Linked DNA regions of Homo sapiens: region 2 is linked to region 1. A link means that fine-mapping ties the variant in region 1 to the expression of a gene that starts in the linked region. Tissue or cell type: whole blood. Region 1 holds a variant in brackets; the other region holds the start of a gene. All regions are shown on one strand. Distances are between the middles of the regions.

Evidence for each region. PIP is the estimated chance that this variant, and not a neighbour inherited with it, causes the effect.
Region 2: RASGRP3 starts here. The variant in region 1 is fine-mapped to the expression of RASGRP3 in whole blood (TOPMed, PIP above 0.99).

Annotation. Positions count from the first base shown.
Region 1 is chr2:33,557,821-33,571,264 of GRCh38, reverse strand. RASGRP3 (RAS guanyl releasing protein 3) reads right to left here. Exons shown (of 18, transcript NM_001139488.2): 16 at 12,929-13,054; 17 at 12,235-12,593; 18 at 6,534-8,536. The coding sequence ends at 8,528. It overlaps RASGRP3-AS1 (RASGRP3 antisense RNA 1), which reads left to right and starts at 1,835. Exons shown (of 4, transcript NR_146505.1): 1 at 1,835-4,229; 2 at 6,000-6,032; 3 at 7,720-7,787. The variant T/C (reference allele first, on the strand shown) is at 8,227.
Region 2 is chr2:33,468,883-33,482,755 of GRCh38, reverse strand. It overlaps RASGRP3 (RAS guanyl releasing protein 3), which reads right to left and starts at 6,107. Exons shown (of 18, transcript NM_001139488.2): 1 at 6,049-6,107. RefSeq lists enhancers at 2,822-2,991, 6,452-6,771.

The sequences.
Region 1 (13,444 bases):
TCCTAGAAAATTATTCACTTGTGGTTTTTATTTTTTGGCTTGGATTTGAGAAGTTTAGCCATTTATTTGTACTCTTTCTTGTCTATGAACGTATTTAAGACTAAAACTTTTTCTCTGAGTAGTGCTGAGGCTGAATCTTGTAGTTATTCTGATCTGTATTTTCATGATCATTTGCTAGACTTTGATTTCCTCTCTTATTCAAGAGTTCTTTAGAAGAGGTAGGTTTTGTGTTGTTTTGTTTTCATTTCTGAACTTTAGCTACTTCATTTTTCTAGTTTTGCTCTCAAGTTCTAATTTTATGGCATTACAGCATAATTTCCTCTGTATTATTTCGCAGGATTGAAACTTGATATTTCTCTTGTGGCCTAATCTGTGGTCAATTTTTGTGGCTGTCTTACTGAAGATGGAACAGGAGATGTATCTTTGTTTTCAAAGGACAGAGTTCACTATGCACATTTATCAATTGTAGCATCATGGTTTAGAGTACAGACTCTGGAGCCAGATTGATGAGAACCAAACGTCAGATTCACTACTGTGATCTTATGCAAATTACTTCATTTCTCTGTGCCTCAGTTTCTTCATCCGTAAAATGGCTAATGGCTATAATAATAGCATCTACCTCTTAGGGTGTTGAGAGGACTCAATGCATTAATATGTGCAAAATATCTTGAACAGTGTCTGGAATGGAATAAATACTATATATGTTTTAGCTGTTGTAAGTATTTAGATCTACCTTGTTAATTAGTTCTAGAGCAGCATCACTGTCTTAATTGAAATATAATACAGGCCACACATTCAATTTCAAGTTTAAAGTAACTGTGTTAAGGAAGTTTTTTAAAAGTGAAATTTTATTTAACCCATTATATAAAAACCATTATTTTACATATATCAATAGAAAAAATTATTAACAACTTATTTACCTTCTTTGTTTTGTGCTATTTGAAATCTGGCATATTTTGTACTTATGGCACCTGTCAATTTGGACTAGTCATATTTCAAGTGCTCGTTAGCCACATGTACCTAGTGGTTACCGTGTTGAATGGCACAGGTCTAAGCGCCTTATTTTTTGTGTACTTGGTACTTGGTTATATCATGAGCTGAGTGAGAGGATAATACATATTTTATACCACTAATATATTTCTGTGTATCTTTGAATCATCTATTCTTTTTGTTCTGTAAATGATGATGCTCTATAATTTGGTACAAAGATATTCATAATTATATTTTGATTGTGATCTGTATCCATTAGCATTAAAATGGGCCTACTTTTGTCTCCTTTTTTTTTTTGAGACGGAGTTTCTCGCTCTGTCGCCCAGGCTGGAGTGCAGTGGCGCAGTCTCGGCTCACTGCAAGCTCTGCCTCCCGGGTTCACGCCATTCTCCTGCCTCAGCCTCCCGAGTAGCTGGGACTACAGGCACCTGCCACCACGCCTGGCTAATTTTTTTGTATTTTTAGTGCAGACGGGGTTTCACCGTGTTAGCCAGGATGGTCTCGATCTCCTGACCTCGTGATCCACCTGCCTTGGCCTCCCGAAGTGCTGGGATTACAGGTGTGAGCCACCGCGCTGGGTCCATTTTTGTCTATTTTTGTGCCTTTTTTTTTTTTTTTTTTTTGAGACAGAATTTTGCTCTTGTTGCCCAGGCTGGAATGCCATGGCGCGATCTCAGTTCACCACAACCTCCACCTCCCAGGTTCAAGTGATTCTCCTGCCTCGGCCTCCCCAGTAGCTAGGATTACAGGCATGCGCCACCTTGCCTGGCTAATTTTGTATTTTTAGTAGAGATGGGGTTTCTCCATGTTGGTCAGGCTGATCTCAAACTCCCGACCTCAGGTGATCCGCCTGCCTCGGCCTGCCAAAGTGCTGGGATTACAGGCGTGAGCCACCGCGCCCAGTCTTTTTTTGTGCCTTTTGCCTTGAATTTAATTTTGTGTGATACTATATTTATGATCAATGTTTTCTTTCTGCTTGCGTTTGTTTGGTATATATTTGCCCATTTAAAAAAGTTTTCAGCCACCTGAATCACTTTACAGCAGGTCTCTTGTGCACAGCATAGAATTGGGGTTTTTTGGTGGTGGTGTTATCAGTCTGAGTACCCTTTAAAAAAAAGTGAGTTTAGCCCATTTATATAACAGATGTTTGAACTTAGTTCTCTTATATATAAGTTCTGTTTTCTGTTTTTATAACTTTTAACTTTCGTATAGAGTCTCTTTGCTTTGGTTTTTTGCATTTACTCTGATATTTAGGAAGAATTAAAATTTTGCTGTAATGTGGACCTTTATAACTATGTAGAATTGCCTTCACCTTACACTTCTTTAGAAAGAATTGCAAAAAAAAAGAAGGGACCTAAAACCTGGAAATAAGGCAGAAGATGGCTGTATGTCCTCGGGTGTCATTCTGCAGCAGTGTCTGACAAGCCTGCTTGAGAGCCATCTGTCTTTCTAGAAGCAGTTCTCAAGTTCAGTACCCAACTAGCATCATCAGCGCCAGCATCACCTGGGAACTTAGAAATGCAAGTTCTCAGGCCCCACCCCAGACCAACCGAATCAGAAACTGTGAATGAGGCCCAGCAATGTGTGCTTTAACAAACCTTCAGGTGACTCTGATGCATGGACAGTGGTTCTCAGCCAGTAGCAATTTTGTCACTTAGGGGACATTTGGAAATGTCTGAAGACATTTTTGGTTATAAAGGAAGTGCTAATGGTATCTAGAAGGCAGAAGCCAGGGACGCTGTTAAATACCCTACAGCGCACAGGACAGCCCCCTTCCCACTTCCCAACAAAGAATTCTCTGGCCCCAAATGTCAATAGTACAGAGATATAGGAACCTTCTTTACAGGAATGTATTTTTGTTTCATTTACTATTTACTATGGATTAGGGCTCAGTTTCTAACTTCCAGAAAATGGGTAAGATACAACAGATTTTTTATCGGGTAGAGGTGTAAATTATTTCTGTCTAGTAGAGAAGATAACCTCAAAGATTATGGTTTAATTGCCTTGTAGGATATTATATTCATGTGTGCTGTGTAGCAAAATACCCTAATACCTAATAACATAAAACAATAAACATTTATTATTACCATGATTTCTGTGAGTCAGGAATTCATTAAGTAGCTTTAATTCTTGGAAAAACAATTTTCATATGCTCTGTAGCAATTTTGTTTTCTGGTGAGTTTTCTGACATCTGTTTAACTGTCCTTTTTTTTTTTCTTCTCATATCCCCTTGGTTTTGGTTTTACCTCTGTTTTAATTTTGAGCTTTTATTCAAAATCTGTGGGAAGTTCCTGTAGGGAAGGAACCAGAGTAGAGTTCAGGCCAGGTGAAATTTCTATTATCCTAGGTTTTGAGTGTGAGTTCAATTAGTCTTAACATCTTGCTGGGCACTGGCAACTATGGGATTTTTTGTTTTTTTTCATCATAAAGAGCCTCTGGCATTCTGCTGTCACAGAGACAGATTGCTTCTAGCAAATATTTCTTGTCAGTGTGCCCTGGCTCTCCTGCTTCTCAGAACCAAACAGGCCCGGGAAGCTCCTGCCACCAGCTAATATATCCTTGTTTCTTCTGTTGTAAATGAAGATTGAGGATTTGCACTTCAGAGTGTGCCCTTCTCTCTGAGCGGGATATTTGCTGCCGCCGGGTGTGTGTGCGTGTGCGTGTGTGTGTAAGATATTTGCTGCCGCCTGGTGTGTGTGTATGTGTGTTTTGAGGCAAAGCCTCACTCTAGGCTGGGGTGCAGTGGTGTGATCTTGGCTCACTTGCAACCTCTGCCTCCTGGGTTCAAGCGATTCTCCTGCCTCAGCCTCCTGAGTAACTGGGATTACAAGTGCGTGCTGCCATGCCTAGCTAATTTTTGTATTTTTACTAGAGATGGGGTTTCACCATGTTGACCAGGCTGGTCTTGAACTCCTGGCCTCTAGTGATCCACCCACCTTGGCCTCCCAAAGTGCTGGGATTACAGGCATGAGCCACCGCACCCGGCCTATACTCCATATTTAAATCTTTCCAGTTGTCCCCCAAATACCTGCTTTACTTTCCTTTTCTTTTTTTTTTTTTTTTAATCCAGACAGTGTGTCGCTCTGTTGCCCAGGCTGGAGTGCAGTGGTACAATCATAGCTCGCTGCAGCCTTGAACTCCGGTGTTTAAGTAGTCTTCCTGCCTCAGCCTCTCAAATCACTGGGACCATAGGCGTGAGCCACTGCTTTCTTCAAAATTTGACCCAGAATCCAATCAAGGTTTGTAACATCGCATTTCACTGTTGTGTTTCATTCAATCTTTTCTGATCCAAAATTGCCCTTTCCCTCCTTTTTCTGTTCGTGATATTTTATTTTTGAAGTGTTCAGGCCAGTTGCTTTGTAGAATACTCCAAGTAATTCCTTCTTCATGCTCCTGTGGATAAACTGCATGTCACTTAGATTCTGAATGGGTATGAATTCCAACGTGATATGCTAGTAACATTTTTGAAAGACAAGATAAAGTAATCATTTTTGTTTGAGGTCTGAGTGCTCTCTAGACTTAGGCCAGCAGGTTTTGGATGCAGCCAGGAGGAAGCCATTTCCTGATTAAGCCTTAAATGCCAAGTAGTTTCCTATACTTACCCACCTTCAATAGTTGTAAAATACATTCCAGTTATCAAGTAAATGCTTTTTATTTTAAAAAGTAATGTTGGTTTTCCTCCTGTCTCCCTGTGTAAACTAATAAATTCTTTTTAAGAGGCAACCTTTTGAATATATTTATATTTTATCCCATTTATGTATACCCAATATATGGATTTTTCTCTAACCTCATTTACATTTTACTCATTTGGTTTCTTAATCTTGCAGGCCTGTTTTCAAACAGGACAAGACTAGTCAGTGTTACAATCAAACCAGAACTAATCCTACACACACATAGTGCCAGAAATAAGAAAATCTCTTTTGACTATTTTCATTAATACTTCTGTTTAATCTTTTTTTTTTTTTTTTTTTTTGACAGAGTCTTGCTCTTTTGCCCAGGCTGTAGTGCAGTGGCGCCATCTCAGCTCACTGCGAGCTCTGCCTCCTGGGTTCACGCCATTCTCCTGCCTCAGCCTCCCAAATAGCTGGGACTACAGGTGTGCACCACCATGCCTGGCTAATTTTTTTTTGTATTTTATTACAGACGGGGTTTCACCGTGTTAGCCAGGATGATCTCCATCTCCTGACCTTGTGATCTACCCGCCTCGGCCTCCCAAAGTGCTGGGATTACAGGCATGAGCCACCATACATCTTTTTTTAACAGAAAATTTAGTTAAATATTGGGTTTAGAGCCTCCAAATATACAGCCATATAATATAGAGAAAATCTGGGCTCTTGAGACAGTTTTAGAGAAGAATCCTGCTTAATTGCAAAATAATAATAACATAAGGTCTTTACAAATACTTTTACATATATTATCTGACTTGATCTTTACCAAAACTCTATGAGGTAGTTGAAGAGGGTGGTGAAATCTCTTTTTTTCAAATGAAGAAATTGAGGGCTCAAATAGATGTACCTGACTTGCCCAGGATTCCATGACTGTAAGCAGCCAAGATGAGATTTCAGTCTGGTTGGGAATTGCGTGCTAAAGGTACACTTTTGTGGTACAGTTTCACTGAATTGATCTCCTCAGTCATTCTAGAGCTTTATATATTTTGGCAAAATTCACATATTTATCTTAGGAATAATTAAGCTTCCTACCATCAATAACAGTTTGACGTTCTCTTCTGCAGAAGTCCTGCCTTCATTTTTAAAATGCAAACTCCTCTGTCCATTGTAGAAACTTACCATGAAAATCTGGGCACATTATTGCTTCAAGGGATATCCACTCAACACAAGGGTTCAAATAACCAATCATGGCTCCTATGGTTTAGGCAGGTCTGAGAAAGCATCAGTCAATTTGTAGATGCTCCAATGAAGATGCAATTGAAGCATTTAATAAATCCTGCCTTCATACCTCATTTTCATTGTTAAGAAGAGTTTACTTTTGTTTTTCCTTTCAATTTTCAGGGTGACAGTGATCATCAGACCTACAAAATGAAGGTGAGGAGGAGTCAATTGTGATTGTTCTTTTTGCCCCATCGTGGATTTGCCTATTTTATTTTACTGATGATGGGAAATTGATAGATTGGAAACATCAGAGTCACTGGTTGTCAGTAAATGATATAATCATAATTATAAGGCAGTTTTGTTATAGACTTAAATTAGTCTTCAGCAAAGTAATAATAGGGGGGTGTGCGTGTGTGTGTGTGTGTGTGTGTGTGTATACAGTAAGTAAGTCCTCACTTAACATGGTCTGTAGATTCTTGGAAATAGCAACTTTAAGTCAAATGAAGTGTTCAAACTGGTCCTCCACAAGGTAATTTCATTCAATTTCCTTTCATTACAACGTTGATGAGAAAAAAAGTTGGTCTTGTTATAGTTGTTTCAAGACCAACTTCAAGTTGTTAAAGTAGCAGTTTCCAAGAATCTATGGACAAATGAGGACTTACTGTGTATATACACACACAATATACAGGCCCATATGTAATTTATATATGTATATACATAGTTATTCTTTTTTATTTTTTACTCAAGTTACATTTAATATCTTTATCACAGGAAGGCTGGCAATATAAAACTTCCTATGTACGAAAACTCAAAAATAACCAAAGTGGCAAGTGAATAATTCCTTTGAGAAGCAAAAGAACAGTACAATGTTTATTAACACGTTTCTTCCTGAATTTTCTTCAATTTTTTTAAACACACAAAAAGCTTTTCTGTACTTAGATTGCTGTTTGCTGTTTTTAATGTTGTTAACATGCATATTATTGCATTTATGGATAGTAGTAGATAGTGTAATATACATGAAACCAACATCTAGGGATGGCTGCCTTCTGAGTGCTTTACAGATGGCACGTTCTCTTATTATCCAGCTTAATCACAGCTCCTCCAACTGATAACTTCACATCATCTGCAGTATTTCCAATCTGTAAATCTGGTTGGCACAAGTTGGTTTTAGCGTATTTGGAACCGTATTTTAAATCACTGGAACTACTTTGCCTTAATGCCCATGGGCTGTCAGCTCCCAAGGGCTAAGACCAAGTTTTTCTTAACTTTGTGCATATAGCGTGGGACCTGCCCAGAACAGGTACTCAACAATTTTGCTGAGCAGAACTGTCCTCAATGGAGAAAAGAAAGGAGAAAGGCTTTACTGAAGACTGCCCCAAATACAAACAAATTCCATTTTAAATGGAATATATACACTTTAGCCCCCAAATGCAGACCAGTGCACGTCTGTGTAGTTTCCGACTAGTCACCTGGTAATAGATCATTCCTGTCATTCACAGGCTCAGTCCCAGCTCTATTTTTCAGTATCTTGAATCAAGTTCTCTCTCCTCTAATCATGGAAGAAATAGACCCATAACTAGTTATTTTGGGTAAATGGGAGCTATTTAAAAAATTGATATTTTAAAAGCTTAAATGAAATGTTAATCAAATATGATTTATGATTATTTTCTTTCTATGAGTATTCTTTAATTGTGGAAGGCAGTTTCTTAGGAAGGGAACAAGGGTTCTCTTTTACAACCAAAAGTTTGGTGGTGGTTTTTTTTTTCACAAAATTATTGAGTTTAAAAAAATTGATGGTTGTTTTGCATTTCACCTAGTAGCTTATTCAATGGTTTGTTTTTCTGCTAAATGTTAACCGTCAAAACTTGAATTAATTTCTTAATTGCTATTTCTACTTCAGGAATCTTAAGAAAGATGGCTTAACCCAGTCAGAAGGGACAAGCATAATTTTCTTCCATGGCTATTTAAGTAAGTATTAGGAGAGCTTTCACGACCATGCTATAGCTTCCTAGTGACGCAGAATTGGTAAGACTTGTGTGATATATACATGTGTGACTTGTTACATATCATAGCAACTGTGTAGTGGGAAGGATGTAAACAGTTTCTCCTTGCAGTTGACCATCATTAGAAGAATCACTGCATTCCAGTGTCTGATGAGCTTCCTAGTCCTCAGGAAAATGTTAAGTTCTGGTCCCATCCAAAAAGCACACCAAGAAGAACAAAACAAAACAAAACAAAACAAGAAAAACAAAAAATGAAAAAAACCCCTCTAAATAAACTCCTTGTTAACTGTTCCCTGCCACAGCACACACAAAAGTTTATAAAAATATTGAAAGGATAGTCTCACAAAAAAAGCGAAGTCTGAGTTTACAGACTGAGTATCAAGTACATGCAAAAAAGCTTTCAT[T/C]TCACCCGTATATAAATGGTCTAGAGAAAGATACATGAGAAAAAAGTACTGACTACATAACACAGTCTTTGTGGCACTTAACTAGGGGTAGGGGAGGAGGAAATAAATAGTTCATAGTTAGTTAGTTAGGGTCAATTCTCTGTCCCATAGTCCAAACATGGAGATCCCACAGTGTCCCAAGGCAGTAAACATCCAGGTATCTTTCCAGATAACTTCCTGAGAGTCAGAGCTTTCTTCAGAGTTTCTCGTCTTGCCCCTTCCAAAAGCCAACATTATTGCCTTCAGTTTCCGCAGCCTGAAGTCAGCCATCCTGAAACACAAATTGGAACCTATTGCATGGCTGGATCTCATATAACAAAATAAGAGTGTTCCTAGAAAGCAGTTTTTCAGATGACTTTGAGGGAACATCTGAAATGATCAGTACCTTGTAGTCTCAGGATTTAGTGGGAATTAGGAGATCATGTAGGTAGCTGGGTGCAGTGGCTCACACCTATAATCCCAGAGCTTTGGGAGGCTGAGGTGGGAGGATCACTTGAGGCCAGGAGTTCAAGACCAGCCTGGTAAATATAGCAAGACCCCGTCTCTACAAAAAAATAAATAAAAACCAGCTGGGTATGGTGGCATATGCCTGCAGTCCCAGCTACTTGGGAGGCTGAGATGGGAGGATCACTTGAGCCCAGGAGTTCGAGGCTGTGGTGAGCTATGACTGTACCACTGCAGTCCTGCCAGGGGGACAGTGAGATCTTGTCTCAGAAAAAAAAAAAAAAAAAAGAGAGAGAGATCATGTAGTTCACCCAGCATATGAACTCTTAAAGACTCCAATATGGAGTCCAACTAGGATGTTGACCTTAAAGGGTGTACCACAAATCATTAGTCCCTTGAAATGGTCCTTGTTAAAAGGTTTCCCTCTTAGAAATCCACAGTGTAAATTAGTGCAAGAGGGCACTGAGAAAATCTGTAAATCTACATATGTATATGTACATATGTATGACTATGTATATTACATATATTCATAAACATATTCCATTTTATTTAGTCAGCATTTCCCAACCCTTTTATGATAAGTATTTGTTGACTAAATTTAATTTAGTAGAAGATAAAGGAAAACAAAAGAAGAAGTTTAAAGGAAATACATGTATTCTTACTGCCAAGAGAGTAATCTTGAACTGTTCTGACATGTAGTGGTCATTGGGGAGATGACATACACTGCCACAGAAAATGTTCGTACCCTTATATTTTAAAATGAGCGTAAATCCTGGAACTCCGTTGGAGGAAATACACAGATTACAAACACACGTACCTTTTCTGTGTTCTAAAGTCTTTAACTACAGGACTCACAAACATCATCTGATACTAAATAATAAATGTGTAGGTCAGTGCTCCTAATGCCATTTATTGGTCTTGCCTGGCAGAAAAAAAAAAAATCTTAAATTTGCAAACTCCTTTGTCTACATATTCAACCGCTGGGTATAATTTTGTCATTTTTTTTCCCTTCTTCCTTATTCCCTAAACAGAGCAAACATCTCATTTGTTACTGATTTGAATGGTACTGGAACTGTATACCATATATATGCATTTCATATAAGAGCATACGTCCTTCATTAATTAGCACAGATGAAATTAAATACTCGTGGTCAGTGAACCATCCCTGTGCTTTAAGAGATAAAAACACAGCTGGGCGCGATGGCTTACGTCTGTAATCCTAGCACTTTGGGAGTTTGAGGCAGGTAGAATACCTGAGGTCAGGAGTTTGGGACCAGCCTGGCCAGCATGGTGAAACCCTGTCTCTATTGAAAATGCAAAAATCAGCCGGGCATGGTGGCACATGCCTGCAGTCCCAGCTACTTGGGAGGCTGAGGCAGGAGAATCGCTTGAACCTGGGAGGCAGAGGTTGCAGTGAGCTAAGATTGTGCCACTGCACTCCACCCTGGGTGACAGAGTGAGACTCCGTCTCAAAGAAAAAAAAAAAAGAAAGAAAAGAGATAAGAACACAGAAAGGATAAGAGAGCATTTGAATATAAAAGTTCAATTTCCAGGAAACAAAATTAAATTTTTTTAAAAACCCAGATACTTGTTTATATTTCCTTATAGAGATTAATGATCAGGATATCTTACCTATTTGATTGTCTTACACCCAACAGGCTGTGAATTTCTCCTAACTCAGAAGCACAGTTTTTAAGTAACTTGAACTGTGAGAGGCCAATAGTAATGAGCTCATGGCCAATTTCACTATTTGTTAAACAAAAGCAGGTTCTCCTCTGAATTCAGAGATGCCCACAAGGTGGGCGCCATCCTGAGCACTCTGGTAGGCGTCCTACCATCTACCTGGAGAAGCTCTTTTTCTGACATTCCAGGGGCAGCTACAGCACCCACGGAAACAGCCTCTGCAGGCTGAGTTAGTGTATGGGGTGACTAGACAGGGAATCCAGAAAATCTTCTTGCACAATGATTCTTTGCTTTTTTGGATCACATACCCCCCAGGAGAATCTGTTTGTTTAATGCATGGACTCCTCTTCCCAGAAGTGACCATATGTCCATGTATATTTTACACGGAGTATAAAGTACTGTCATGAACACCCTAAAGCCATTAAATAGACCTCGGGTTAAGAGCTGTTGACACCTAATCATGATCTTTCTCTTATTCTCGTTTATATTCCCAGCTTGAACTGTGCTAGGCCAGTAAAAGAAGTAGGGGGATAGGACTGATACAGTTGTCAAGATGATCAGTGGGGGAAATGTTAAAAATAAAGTGGGCATTGCAAATCTATAGAGACAGAAAATAAATTAGTTGGCTGGGGTGAGTTGGGGGAGAATGACTGCTCGTGGGTGTAGGATTTCTTTTTGGAATAATGAAAATGTTCTAAAATTAGATTGTAGTGATGGTTGCACAACTTTGTGAGTATACTAAAAGCATACTGAAAGTATACTAAATTGCATACTTTTAAATGGGTCAGTTTCATGGCATATGAATTACATCTCAAAGCTGTTTTTAAAAGTGGATGTTATAGAAACAAAAAAAGTGTTTCAGCAGAAACTTACAATAAACCTTGTATGACCAGAGATAATGGGTGGCCTCCTTATGCACTGCCTTCAGTGAGGAAGGAACTAGGGGAATTTCTGGCTAAAGGTCACTGGAGTTTTTCTCATCATGGGAAATGTATGGAGACGTGTGTTTAGGTCTCCTGAAGAGTGGAATGTGGAGGACCACCCATAAGACTAAAGAGCACTGGCTTGATCCAGTAGGATCTCTGCCTAACCCAATATTCTGTTTATGAGAACAATTCGACAGGGTGGCAATGGCTGTCCTCCATGACATTGCTTTAAATGTTAGGAATATCATGCCAATTTTCTCAAATCCTTTCTCTTAATACACTATAGACTGTTAACTAATAAATTTATCTAACTCCATCTTGAATCAATTTCTGTGTCAGCATACTCTAACAAATTCCATCTGCATCCTACTTTGCTTTGCATGATTTTGCTCATGCGGAGGCAGAGCCTGGTTTAGAGATCCTCAAGGGCCTCGTATCTCTGATTCTCACCACCCCCTTTTCCATGATGCTGTCAAAAGCTTCTTTTGAGCAGAATGAAAAGTTTCCAATTCTCCTTTATCTAAAAGTCTTTTGCTTCTACTGCCTTTCTTGAGTCTGGGCCCTGGTTCTAGCTTGGAAAACCAAGCTGATCTGTATCGTGTACTGGTATTTTGGATATATAGTCATGGGTTTCTGGGGCATCATTTCAGTACGCACACATGACAGCCTTCAATAGGTTTCAGAACTTGATCTCGTTCAATTTTTTTAAATCATGATACTGAGATCCATAAAGAAGAAACATATGTCCAGGGTCACATAGCTAGGCAGTGGCAAGACTAAAAGTGATACATGTCTTCATTCCCAACCATTCTGCTTTCAGAACTACCAGGCTGCCCCCCAGACCCTCTGTAACGCTCATCTCAGCACTTTCAGCCTCCTTCTTCTGGTTTTCTTTGTGGGTTGACCTAGCACTTACCTCACCATCCTGTCTGGTCTCTTCTCCTTCATCCTGGTCAAGTTCAAACTCCGTGCCCCGGTCTACAACATCCACACCAGCATGCACCCTGGGCTTCTCATTTTCCCATTTGGCAAAGCCTTTGTCCTTTGCTGCTTTGTCATGGAACTTGGATTTCATTTTAGGGAAGGTGTGGGACCCCGAGTCCCCCCAGCCAGCCTCTGACCAGACAGGTTCAGTCTGGGTGGCCTGGCTGGTGGTGGCCCTCTGTAGCCTCACAGAGATCTTGCGAGAAGAGCCTGTAACCAGTGTGATGGCTCTGCTGTCTAAATCCCTGTGTCCAGCAGTGACTCCAGGGAACTCAAACACCTCATCCTGCGCTGGAAGTGAAAAAGGGTGGTGATTATTTGACATCTGACTGCTTGACAGCAAAGCATCAAGGTTAGTGCAAACAGCACGAGTCTGGCATGCAACATTCTAGAGGAACCGACAAGGGACAGAACTCAATTAGCCGCAGGCAAGTTACATATTCCTGAGACTAGAAAGCAGAGAGAAGCAAGGATGATTCAAGGGTTTAGCTACTGCTGCTCACCCTAAAGAAGGCCTTAGCGTTTAGAGTGACTGACCGGGTTTAGACCCAGAACCTAAATGAGGTCCAAGTGTGAGGAGGCAAGCAGAAAGAGACCATGGCAGCAAAGAAAGCAGAGGGCATTACCTGGGGGCAGCGAGGGGCTTCCAGGCAGTGACCCATGACCACTGCTCAAGGAGGGCGCCCGGGCAAATCTCCTGCAGGCCAGAACCAGGAGGTCTTTGCACTGTTTGTGACAATTGGCTCCACAGTCTGAAAAATTCCAAGGGTGTCGCAGATGATTAGTGTGTCTGATGTTGATTCAGTTTCCAGGGTGGCACTTGATTTGTCAGCCCTCCCCTCCCCCACCCCAGTTTCTGTGTTGAATTTCAGAGTTGAGCTCAGGCCCATGGGGTGTGTCTAGGATCTGGAAAGAGGCCATTGGTCTGCACTTGCCTTCCTGAGGTTCCGAAAATTCTCTTAGATTTGCTCAGCTTGGTTCTGTATGCAATTGAGGACCTAATGAGCAATTGTGCCTAGGGAGTAAATAGAGTCCAGCCTGAGAGGTCAGTTGCCTTTGCCCAAAACTAAATGCAAATCAAATGGGGTTGAGAGTCTTTCCCAGGCTTAGACGGAATCCCCACAAAGAGAGCCTATGCCAGC
Region 2 (13,873 bases), 89 kb after region 1:
ACTGCTATTTTTATGATCTTGGCAACATTCTGATGATGCTGTCATACAATGAACTGAATTGCCATATTGGGAAACTGACAGATAGTGAAGCGTCCCCATTATTCTAGCAAGTTAAGACTCTCTCAGTTGTGGGCAGATAATCGTGCAGAGGGAAATGATCACAGTGGACACTATTCATGGTAGTTAGAATGCACTATACCTCCACAGGAATAAAGGTGCTATACTCAGGCAGAACTTTCAAGAATGCCGATGGTTTTGTTGGGCAAGGAGCGTGCACACTGAAGAGCAGACTGCAGTTTTCATACCTCAGGAAACAACCAAATTGTCTCTAAAAGGTAACGTTACATCATGCCATAGTTGGTATAACTCCAACTTGACTATATGAGTCTTCAAGACAGAAAAATGATCACTAAGTTCCTTTAAAAACATTACCCTAAGCTGCGGCCCGGCACGGTGGCTCACGCCTCTAATCCAAGCACTTTGGGAGGCCCAGGCGGGCAGATCACGAGGTCAGGAAATCGAGACCATCCTGGCTAACACAGTGAAACCCTGTCTCTACTAAAAATACAAAAAAATTAGCCCGGCATGGTGGCGGGCGCCTATAGTCCCAGCTACTCGGGAGGCTGAGGCAGGAGAATGGCATGAACCTGGGAGGCGGAGCTTGCAGTGAGCCGAGATTGTGCCACTGCACTCCAGCCTGGGCGACAAAGCGAGACTCCATCTCAAAAAAAAAAAAAATATTACCCTAAGCTAGCCAGGCACAGTGGCTCATGCCTATAATCCCAGCACTTTGGGAAGCCAAGGTGGGTGGATCACCTGAGGTCAGGAGTTCGAGACCAGCCTGGCCAACATGGTGAAAACCCATCTCTACTAAAAACACAAAAATTAGCTGGGTGTGGTGGTGCACGCCTGTAGTCCCAGCTACTCAGGAGGCTGAGGCAAGAGAATCGCTTGAACCTGGGAGGCAGAGGTTGCAGTGAGCCAAGATTGTGCCACTGCACTCCAGCTTGGGTGACAGAGTGGGACTCTGTCTGAAAAAACAAACAAACAAAATTATCCTAAGCAAATACGGTGTCTGAAGACTAAGCTGACCCTGTTTCCAAAGTCAAATGTCCATAGGCTTTGGAAATATCATGAGTGGCATGTCGCAAATCGGTTATCCAGTCACTCTTTGCCTATCTGAAGAGAATACAAATTACACAACTTTTTATCACCAAAGATAATTCCACAGATTGTGTAAGTGCATGGTCATGAAATAGTTGAAATTGGTCTTTCTTTGAAAGATAGCATAACTAGGCCAGGCGCAGTGGCTCATGCCTGTAATCCCAGCACTTTGGGAGGCCGAGGTGGGTGGATCACCAGGTCAGGAGATCGAGACCATCCTGCTAACATGATGAAACCCCGTCTCTATTAAAAATACAAAAAAATTAGCCAGGCGTGGTGGTGGGCACCTGTAGTCCCAGCTACTCGGGAGGCTGAGGCAGAAGAATGGTGTGAACCCGGGAGGCGGAGCTTGCAGTGAGCCGAGATCGTGCCACTGCACTCCAGCCTGGGCGACAGAGTGAAACTCCATCTGAAAAACAAAAACAAAACAAAAGAAAGATAGCATAACCAACAGAAAAAGCCTGGCACTTGGAGTCAGTAGACAAGAGATATAGTTGAGCTCTGACAGTTACTTTTCCCATGACCATAGACAAGTCACTCATTTTCTCTCGTCCTCTATTTCCTCTTTGAAAACAATGGTGATGATACCCTCCCTCTTTCATGGGATTATGGCAAGGTACAAGAAAGTGCCTTATGCCGGCATATATAAATGCAGGGGTTCGACTTCTCAATACCAAAGATGAGCTCAAAGATCAAAGCACAGCGACTCTGCACACCACAGACTCTGAAGCTATAATAATCACTTGAAACAGCAAAAAAATCCAAAGACTTCAAATCCCATAGAGCAGTGGAAACATGACACAGGAGCTGTTAACTCCAGGGACTATAAGTGAGCAATCAATACCAAGGGAAAGGAGGATCCAGGAAAGTTAACTTTTTGGAAGCAGATGTCTTTGAAACACACAATTGGGCAAAAACAAAGAAACAAAATAGGCATTGTATCCCAGAATGTGTTTCCTTATTGTAAAAGGACCCCAAAACGAATCAAGCATTTTATTTTCTTTCAAATCAGCTCCAGAGTATGACTTGTGGACTCTGTCGTGATTCTGAGTCCACTTCACGTGTACCCATATAACACCCCCTGTACAAAGCCAATTTCTACAGAAGTGAGCAATTCCTAGCAAGGATTGGAGGCAATTCCCAGTGGTTTTGGTCTAGCAAACCACATCACTGACTACTACTGAGTTGGGCTTAGTTTTAGAGGCAGCAGGCAGGTGGAATTAAAGATTAAAAATTCTTCTTTCATGCGGGCTGGGCGCAGTGGCTCACGCCTGTAATCCCAGCACTTTGGGAGGCCGAGGCGGGTGGATCACCAGGTCAGGAGATCGAGAGCATCCTGGCTAACACAGTGAAACCCCGTCTCTACTAAAAATACAAAAAAATTAGCCGGGCATGGTGGCGGGCGCCTGTAGTCCCAGCTACTCAGGAGGCTGAGGCAGGAGAATGGTGTGAATCCTGGAGGCGGAGCTTGCAGTGAGCCGAGATCTCACCACTGCACTCCAGCCTGGGCGACAGAGCGAGACTGTCTCAAAAAAAAAAAAAAAAAAAATTCCTCTTTCATGCTATAAATAGCTTGATCTTCAAAATGTGTAATCTTGCCAGAACGACCTTGCAGAAACACTGATAACTTCCTCAGAAACATCCACACATGGCATACTTGCTTGATTTTCCTCCTGATTAATAAAAGGTTCCCTGTTGATTACATACTACCTGGTGCTCTTTCCCATTATCTCCAACCCTAATTTTGACACTTAACCTAAAGTGGAGGAATGTGGACAGCCAAATGACATTTTTAAAAGGATTCAGGAGGCAGGTTTCTTAAGGGCTCTGCAAGTCTGATGACCCAGAAAATCCACAGGTTTATGGCCCACCCGTGAGACAGTCAGAGCTTTAGATATGCAACTGGTGTGTGGAGAAGTAGGACTCAGGGTAAATGGCAGGTGCAGGCAGTGAAGAAAAGCATACCTCTCCTCCCTCACCACTGCCAGCTAGTCCCCTGCCCCGTGACCCACCCCTTACACCCACAGCTCAAAAAAACAGCGCAGAGTGGCAGAGTGCATGGTTTCTATTCATCAACAACCTACTCGGACAACCAACCTTCCAGGCTGAGCAAAGGGGATGGGTCTGATAATAGCTTTATCAACACTAAGCCAGCTATTTGGGGTGGGGCATGGGTGGAGTGGCTGTCCTCCAAAGGAAAGGAGTGACAGGAAAACTGGAGGGAAAGGCCAGAAGGGGCATGGGAGCCGTGTGCTGGAGGTTAATAACAAAGTTCCCGGTTGCTGTTCTTACCAACATCAAGACCGTCACTGAACTATTTTCAAAGAGAAAAACATGCCACCAGCCAGCGATCCTATAGAGAGAGCTTGGGCTTGGACTGTCACAGGGGGAAACCTAGCCCTTCCTGTCATGGAGAGCTCGAAAAGGGCATAACACACATTGTGTGTGTAATCATATTGTGCTGGAAATACTCTCATTTGCATGTTGTGAGTTTTTACATTTAAATGTGTGGGATTCCACTTTTATTTTTTAATGTATACAGGTTCTACAGTCAGATCCAGGTGTCCCTCCTGTCTGTGTTACATATGGTCAAGTAACTAAGGGTGTCCCTCCTGTCTGTGTTACGTATGGTCAAGAACCTCAGTTTCCTATCTATAGAACTGGAATAATAATATGTAACACATAGAGTTATTGTGAGGAGACTATGAAAATAAATACACTTGTTTAGCGCATCATTTGGCAGAGTAAGTGCACAATAAAAGTAAGGGATTGTTATTAGCGTTGAAATTATGATGGAAGCCTTGAGCTCTCTCTTCTGGCTCTGCACCGTAACTCCGATAAATTTGCTACAGTTTCCTCATCTTTGATACGAAAGAGTTAAATCGCACATTCTATCATTCCTATCCAGGTCAAAAAGTCTTTGAGTCAATGGATGTACTATCTGCAAGTAAAATCATTATTTTTTATTATTTTGCTATTAATATTTTGAAAAGGCATGGGTTTTTCAAAGGAGCCTGTTGGCTCTCAAAAATACAGCAGTTGGATAATTCAACTGCTCCCATTTAGACATTCCATTTTATTATGGGAGGCTCGATGATTCCGGAGACACAATTTCACCAGAGGGTTCTCTTCCACTATCAACCTGTGGAAAATCTGAAACTATACCAGGAACAAACTCCCTAAAGAATGACTCAGGAGGAACCCCCTCCCCCAGCAGTCAGACAGGGAAGTCACAGACCACATGGCCGCGGGCTGACCCAAGGACCTCACACAAATGCCATACCGAGGAACAGAGAAGTTGGGACTATTTTTCCTCATTGGCCACTCTACATTTTGTGGATTCTTCTACATTTGAAGGAAAAGAAGGTGGAGAACTTCTCAATGTCAGACTAGCCATTTGTTTAGACAGGGCATCCGAAACTGCTTCCATCAGAGAACATTGGTTGGTGCGGTACTCAAGACCCACTGTGCTGAGGGAAACTCGATCGCAGAAGTGCCGTGCCCTGGGTCATTTTTAATCCATTCTCCACAAACAACAAAGGATGGTAAGGGTGGGGAGAGAACAGTGTTCCCTCATGGCAGGGGGCAGAGGGCGAAAGAAAACCGTATAGCTTGAGCCTGTATGAGAATCCATTTGTCACACGAGGAAACAAGCGCACTCCAGGTTGTCCTAGGCTTATCACAAGCAAAACAACTATTTGGTGAGACTTCAAATAAAAACAGCCCCTCTCTGCCCACCCTCCTCAAGATCCACGCGATCTCCAGAAACAGGAACCTGTTTGGTTATCTCCCTGCAGCCTCTGATTCAAAGACCTGTCACTTTCAGAGCTTTACGTCATCAGTTTAGAGCTCTGCCCTCTCTCTTTTCCCCTTTTGCCTTTCCTCTGAAGCATTCTGTCTGGTGACTACCAAGGAAGGACAAAAGTCACCGAACAACAGCTCAGTTCCAGCATGGTGCCTGCTTTGCTGCTCGCCCAAGCGCAAGCACCATTACTGCTGAATGAACCTGAGAAGGAGCCGGTTCTCTCCGTAATTTGGATGCCAGGCCTCCCAGAGTTAATCATCAGCTGCAGGCAGCACTTTCCCAGTCAGGTCATAAACAAGGAAAAAACAGCCTGAGTATCACGAAAACACTAAAATAAGGAAGACCAGCGGCAACCGAACATTTTAAAGTAATGAAGGTGAAGGAAGACCAGGGGCAACTGAACATTTTAAAGTAATGAAGGTGAATTAGCTTGTTGGGGGGAAAAAAAGTCGCTATAAAATACAGCTTTCAATTAGTTGGAAACCATGCAAGAAATCTAAATATGATTTCTAATGTGAATCTAAATATTATTTTGTCAGTCTTCTATATTGCAGACAGTTCTACACAGTTAAATGAGATATTCTCAAAAATTGAATAGGAAAAATCAAATCAGCCATACAATAAATTCACAAGTTACTTTAAACAACTACGTTTTCAGGTTTCAGTGGTAGAAACAGATTAAAATCAAATCTAGTCATCAACTCACTTCAATGAAGTCTCTACTTCATAACCTGAACTTGACTTTGAACCTAAACACCATGGACTAGAAAAATCTTGAACACTGGGAAACAAACTTTCTGTTTCCTAGACAGGAATGAAGCCATATGCCCCATTCATCCTCAAAGTTACAAGACACGTTGCCGAAAATAACAGGTTCTAAAAAAGGGCTGTGAAAACACCAATGGCTGTTAACAGGTACAAATAAAATATCTCCTTCTATCGTGCCAGAGGGAAACCAAAATCAAAATCAAAAGTTGTTGGTGGCTTGCAACACACACACACACACACACACACACACACACACACACGGAGAGGGAATGAAAGAGAGAGAGAGAGAGGAAAGTTCTCCAGTTACTTACTAGGGTGGTTTTGTCGTGGTATTTTTCACATCAGCACTCTGCCTGTCCAGCTGCCAAGTGCCGGAGCACGCCGAGAGCAGCTGTTTCCTTCAAGCTGGGGCTCTGAGTCTTAACCAGTCACATGTACCTCCTGATAAATACCGCCCGCCACCGTGCCAGGAGGTCAGAAACTGAAGATCATTCTTCTCCTCACTCGCAAACCACCTCATAACCCCTGAGTTGGCTCAGCCATCTCATGAGCATGCAGAGCGGGATATTCCACAATTTGTTTTCCTTTAGTGACAAAAGCCAAACAGCTGATAAGTCACACTGAAGGGCAGGTCACTGCAAGTGGAAAGTTAAATGTGTTTGCGTGTGTGTGTGCGCAGAGGGGGAGACTGGCAGGCTCCATGCTCTCTCATCTCACTCAAGTTTCACTGGGGCTCTCGAACGGCAAGAGAGAGGATCACCAACTCGCACAGCAGGTGGAAGTTGCTCTGTGTTAACCCCGGAGTACAACTGTTTGGTTTCGTTTTCTCAGAATCTCAGGCTCCAGTTTGTTAGACGAGCCACAAGCCTGACTAGGTGGCTGGTGCTGGGGAAGGCAGACCCTCACTCACCATCTAAGAATGCTTAGGTTGGACTTCAAAGGCCGGGGCTGCTAAGCCAAGGGACGCTGAGGGGCAAATATGGGAGGGGTTAATGAAGACTATCAAAGGCAGCTTTATCTGAAGAGCTCTTGGAAGTGATTTCAGGTAGCTTTAGACCAAACTTCCGCATTGTTATCTGTTGAATTGCATCGAGCAGCTGAGATTATCAGCCGGCGAGTGTGAATGCAAACAGAAATTATCACCAAGTTGACAACGCGCTTTACAGACGCACTACTGCCCCCTTTGGTGTGCTGGGAACTTGGAGCAAACTGCCGTTTTCTGTGCTGCTCGCAAACGTGGCAAACCATCCCTGATGTTTTGTTGAATTCATATGTCTCACCTGAGCTGATGTTCCCACCCTTCCCTTTTCATCCTCCCTTCCAAGGAAAGCCCTTGAAGTATCTGACTTTACGTAGTGTCTGACCTTGGATGTCTGACTTCTTGGTATAGTAAGGGTGACACTTCCCCGAATCAGTGTCTGAGCCTGCCCTTCAGGTAGAGATATGACATAGAGGCAGCCTATTTGGCAAAGTGAACATCCAGAAAAGATGGTTGAAGTCCCCCAGGGGATTTCTGAACCATAATGTGCCTGTTAAACTATTAACCCTGATTTTTAACACATAATATCTTACTCAGTGTAAGAGCCTGTGTGAGTAATCTTTTATATTTAGGCTTTGTCTCATAATTATTTACAGTGTTAATCAAACCAGAAATTTCCCTCCATATAGAGGATACAGTGTTTTCTAGAATAAGAGAAAAAGACAAAAAACCCTCAGTCTCACCATACTATCAGGGCAGTAATTTGTTGTCAACTTGTGAGAGTCCGAAGAGCAAATGGGAGAATTTTGTAAGCACCAAAACAAATCCCTTCCTCAGCATTTCAAGTTAGTAATAGAAATAAACTTCAGATATAAAAATGCAATGCATAAAATACACATTTCCCTCACAGGCATTTTTGTTTATGTGTTGATGTGACAATCTTCAATTAGAAACAGAAAAAGAGGCCTACTGAGGATTTGAAACATTATTTTGATTTACTTACCCCCTTGTATTTACAGTAATAGAAACTTTTGTGATCTGATGGCATCCATCCATCACTTTGTTTACCATTGACTGGGTTAATTATTCTGATGATCCATTGCATGCCACATAAAGAAACAGGGACTTCTAGAAACTCTTCAATGCCCAACAGCGACAACAGCCTCAGGAAAGTTAAGTTGTATTAGTCCATTCTTGCATTGCTATAAATACTTGAGACTGGGTAATTTATAAAGAAAAGAGGTTTAATTGGTTCATGGTTCTGCAGGCTATGGAGGAAGCATGATACTGGCATCTGTTCGGCTTCTGGGGAGGCCTCGTGAAACTTACAATCATGGTGGAAGGCAAAGTGGGAGCAGATGAGTCACATGGCCAGAGCAGCAGCAAGACAGACAGGGGGCACTTCTAAATGACCAGCGCTTGCCAGAACTCACTATCAGCTGGGTGTTGTGGCTCATGCCTATAATCCCAGCACTTTGGGAGGCTGAGGAGGGTGAATCACCTGAGGTCAGGAGTTTGAGACCAGCCTGGCCAACATGGCAAAACCCTGTCTCTACTAAAAATACAAAAATTAGCCGGGCGTGGTGGTGTGCTTGAACCTGGGAGGCAGAGGTTGCAGTGAGCCAAGATCAAGACCGCACCACTGCACTGCACTCCAGCCTGGGCAACAGAGTGAGACTCTGTCTTAAAATAAACAAATAAATAAAAGAACTCACTCACTATCATGAGAACAGCACTAACAGGATGGTACCAAACCATTAATGAGAAATCTGCCCCTAAGATCCAATCACTTCCCACCAGGCTCCACCTCCAACACTGGAAATTACATCTCAACATGAGATTTGGGTGGGCACAACATCCAAACTACATCATAAGTGTAAAGCAGGAGTCCCCAGCCCCCATGCCATGGACAGGTACCTGTCCATGGTCTGTTAGAGGCCAGGCTGCACAGCAGGAGGTGAGCAGCAGTCAAGGGAGCATGACCATCTGAGCTCTGCCTCCTGTCAGATCAGCTGTGGCATTAGATTCCCATAGGAGCATGAACACTATTGTGAACTGTGCACGCGAGGGATCTACACTGCATGCTCCTTATGAGAGTCTAATGCCTGATGATCTGAGGTGGAACAGTTTCATCCTGAAATCATCTCCATCCCCTCATTCCCGGTCCATGGAAAAATTGTCTTCCATGAAACTGGTCCCTGGTGCCAAATACATTAGGGACCACTGGTGTAGAGGTTCTTTTCTAGTTCTATAGCCAGGAGAGGAAGGGATGGATCCTCAATCCTCCCTATGAAGCAAACTGTTAACACAGAGGCCAAGACCCAGGACCCTTTCAGTCAGAGTCCAGGAGTGTGACTAAAGGTTCTACAATAACACAGCCTTGCAAAGAAATGGGGGAGATCCCATCTTTCTGCCCACACTCCCTACCAGTTCCAAGCATTGTCTTCGACTCAAGAAGAGGTGCCCTCTTCCTGTCAAGAGGCCACCTCCTACCTCGGCTTTGTGTCTCACCCTGTGTCTCCCACCTGCTTAGGACTCTCGACAACAACCACGCCTTCTCTTGCTCTCAGCGTGCGCTCATTAGCTAAACATGCTCACGTTCTCACATTGTCTTTATATCCTAACAACAGTCTTTCTGATTTTTTGCTTTTTTTTTTGAGACGGAGTCTCACTGTGTTGCCCAGGCTGGAGTGTGGTGGCGCGATCTCGGCTCACTGCAAGCTCCGTCTCCCAGGTTCAAGCCATTCTCCTGCCTCAGCCTCCTGAGTAGCTGGGACTATAGGCACCCGCCACCACGCCCAGCTAATTTTTTGTATTTTTAGTAGAGACATGTATTTTTAGTAGTAACATGGGGTTTCACCATGTTAGCCAGGATGGTCTCCATCTCCTGACCTCATGATCTGCCCACCTTGGCCTCCCAAAGTGCTGGGATTACAGGCGTGAGCCACTGCCCCCAGCCAGACTTGCTCTTTTAATTACTGCCCTAACTCCTGCATTCCCTCCACAACTAAACTCCTGAAAAAATACTTGTCTTCACCATCTCACATCCCATTTACTCTCAACCTACTTGTGGCTTGGCTTTTTTTCCCTCACTTCACTGAAACTGCTCTTTCCAAGTCCCCAAAGACCAAAGGCAACCGACACTTTTTGCTTTTTTTTTTTTTTTTTTGAGACGGAGTCTTGCTCTGTCACCAAAGTGCTGGGATTATAGGCGTGACCCACCGCGCCCGGCAATTTTCATGTTTTTAGTAGAGACGGGGTTTCACCATGTTGGCCAGGATGGTCCCGAACACCTGACCTCGTGATCTGCCCGCCTCAGCCTCCCAAAGTGCTGGGATTACAGGCGTGAGCCATCTTACTTGACCTTTTGGCTCTATTTGTCCCAACTGACCAACCACCCCTTGAAAAGCTCTCCCATGGCGTCTATAAAATTTTACTACTACCTCCTTCATCCTCAGGTCTGGGCTTCTCTTCCGCTATCTGCCCCTTAGGTGTGAAAATCCTCTCTTCTCATCTTGCACTCTTACCGCCCCTCATATGTTCTGATTTATTACTGAAGGTCTGCGGTGATTTCCTAATTAATCACCTTGCCTCCAAAAAGCCTGTCTCTGATCTCAATGTATGTTTTACACGCTAGGACTGAAAGCCCCTCCGGGCCATCGTAGGCAACTTTGTATTCCCAGAACCTTCAGGGCTTCACTCCCACTCTAGCTGCCTGCTGCTTTTGTACATTTCGCTGCGGTTGCATTTCTTTCTGTATTATAATTAGGTCTACATGTGTCTGTGTTCCATCCAAACTTTACCAATCTAAGACAAAGCTTATGACTTATTTTATATCCTGCAATGCCTAATACAATGCCTGGCATGTATGAGACACATGGTGGAAACAATCCTCGATGAATAAATGAATAATTAAAGAGAAGGATCTTCTGTCTAGCCCATTAAGAAAAAAATATAAGAAAAGTTTGCAAAACTTGATTTTATATTAGGCTACCAAAAAAAAATTGTAAGTAATTTCTTTCCAAAAGAAATTGGCCATATTCTGTGATCACACTGTAATAAAACTATACATTAATTACAAAAGTGTAAGTCAAAAAGACCCCACGCTCTTGGGGAAACTTTAGAGTTCTTAAAAAAAAAAATCATTGATTGGAGAATAAATTAAAAACACAATTACAGAATGAATGCTTAGAAGGTTTCAGTGATGAGAATACCACATATCAAATATTGGGAGACATAGCCAAAATAATAATTAGAAGCAAACTGACCCAGGAAGAAGTCAAAAAACAACAGATCAGTAACCATGGAAAAATGTAAAAGTTAATAAGGAATTATTTCCAAAAAAAGCTCTTAGTTCAGATTACTTACACAATCAAGTTCTAACTGAGCTTCAAGCAGAATTAACTCCCATGGTATATGAAGTGTTCAAGTGGACAAAAGTAACAGAAAGCTAACATAATACCCTGTCTTAAAAAAAAAAACTGATAAAGCATAATAAAGAAAACCACAGACTAACTTCATACGTAAACATAGGTTGCCCTAAAGATGTAAAAAATAAGGCTGGGAATAGTGGCTCACCCCTGTAACCCCAGTGCTTTGGGAGGCCAAGGTGGCAGGATCACCTGAAGCCAGGAGTTTGAGATCAGCAGGGGCAACATAGCGAGACTCCATCTCTACAAAAAAAAAAAAAAAAAAAAATAGCCCAGTGTGATGGCAGATGCCTATAGTCCTACCAACCTGGGAGGATGAGGCAGGAGGATCACTTGAGCCTAGGGGATCAAAGCTGCAGTAAGGTATGATCACACCACTGCACTCCAGACTGGGCAACAGAGAAAAACTTTTGGATTGCCACAATAATCTTGAAAAATCATTTGATAAAATTCAATATCAATTTTTTAATTAATAAAACAAAATTAAAAGACTGATTCTTAACATGATACTCATGTTAATTCAAATCTCAAATCAAACATAGGCATCATACTTAATGGTAAAATACTGGAAGTATTAATGTTAAAATCAGAAACAAGAAAAGCATGCTCATTATCACTACCATCCATTTAACACTGTTCTAGACATTTGAGCCACTGCAACCAGGCAAGAAAAAGAAACTAAAGAAGAATTTTATGAGAAAAATGGAGACAAAAGTATTCAACCTGCAGATTGAGTAATATTCATTTTCTCAATAGAACAAACTAAAATTTGCTTCTAAATAATTAAAAAGTGAGGTGAACAGTTACAAATAAATATACAAAATAAGTATACAAAATTAATTGTTCTGGCCACGGAACAATTATACAGAAATATATGAAATTTTCCATATAACCCACAAAAACTTAGAAAACATAATAGAAAATAATTCTTGGCCGGGCGTGGTGGCTCACACCCATAATCCCAGCACTTTGGGAGGCCGAGGAGGGTGGATCACAAGGTCAGGAGATCGAGACTATCCTGGCTAACACGGTGAAACCCTGTCTCTACTAAAAATACAAAAAATTAGCCGGGCATGGTGGCGGGCGCCTGTAGTCCCAGCTACTCGGGAGGCTGAGGCAGGAAAATGGCGTGAACCCGTCAGGCGGAGCTTGCAGTGAGCTGAGATCGCGCCACTGCACTCCAGCCTGGGCAACAGAGTGAGACTCCATCTCAAAAAAAAAAAAAAAAATTCTTAGTTATAGTATTATTTATAATAGCAACAACAACAATAACATTTCTAGGAATAAAAAAAGTGAATAACCTATTTAAAAATGTAACTTTACTGAGAAAATTAAAAACAGTTTGATACATTTCTGTATTGGAAAGTTTTTCTGTACTGGAAAACTTAACATTGTAAATATATTAATTCTCCCTCAAATTAATTTATAAATATAATCAAATTTTGCTTAAAATCCCAAATAAATTTTTCAAACAGGTCAAAAATCCTCAAGTTTATTTTAAAGAATAAAAAACTGAGAATGGTAAAGAAAATTTTAGAAAAGAACCACAAGGGAGATATTAGGTACTAAATAGGCTAAAAATAACGTGAATTTAAAGTTTGGTACTAGTGCCAAAAGAACTAGAGCAATGGAACAGAGCCAAAAGCCCAGAAATACACATAGAAGAACTACAGTAAAATGTTTATTGTATTTGTTCAATATGGTTTTTAAACCCAGTGGGAAAAGAATAAACTATTCAAAAACAGGTTAAATCATTAACTATTCGGAAAAATTAAGATGCAATCATTACTTCATGCCATACACAAAGTAAAAGCATGTTAGACTAAAGAGTTAAACATAAAAACGCTGTACAGCAGCACGGTGGCTCATGCCTGTAAACCCAGCACTTTGGGAGGCCGAGGTGGGCAGATCATCTAAGGTCAGGAGTTTGAGACCAGCCTGGGCAACATGGTGAAACCCCTTCTCTACCAAAAATATAAAAAATTAGCTGGGCATGGTGGCCCATATCTGTAGTCTCAGCTACTAGGGAGGCTGAGGCAGGAGAATCACTTGAGCCCAGGAGGTGGAGGTTGCAGTGAGTCAAGATCGCGCCACTGCACTCAGCCTGGGTAACAGAATGAGACTCCATGTCAAAAAAAAAAAAAAAATCACATACAAACTTGAAGAGAATCACATGATTGGTTTTATAATCTTAAAATTGTTTTAATCATGATTAAATACTTTTGTCCTGAAAACGTTTCAATCACAGTCACAACAGAAGGAGCTATAAAGATAAAAGTTCACGATTTAAACCATAAAATATAAAACATATATGTAAAATATAATCCAACGGTAATCAAAATTAACCTACAAATAATAAAATGAGATTCAAAAGTGAAATACGTATGGTAAAGGGTTAATGGTCTTAACATATAAATAGCATTTACAATTAACAACTGGATATTAATAAATAGTTCACAAGGGAAGAAACATAAATGACCAATCTACACATGAAAAAGTCAGCTTCCCTAAAAAAGGAGTATACATTAAACAACGATAAGATACAATTTATTATCTATAAACTTGACAAAGATGAAAAAACGAAAATTCTCAGTGTTGGCAGGAGGTTTGGAAAATGGCACCTTCATACTCTACCAGAAAGAATATAAATCGTACAACATAGGAGGAAGATAATTTTGTAATGTATGTCAAAAGCTTTTTAAAATGTGAATACCCTTTAACTCAGCA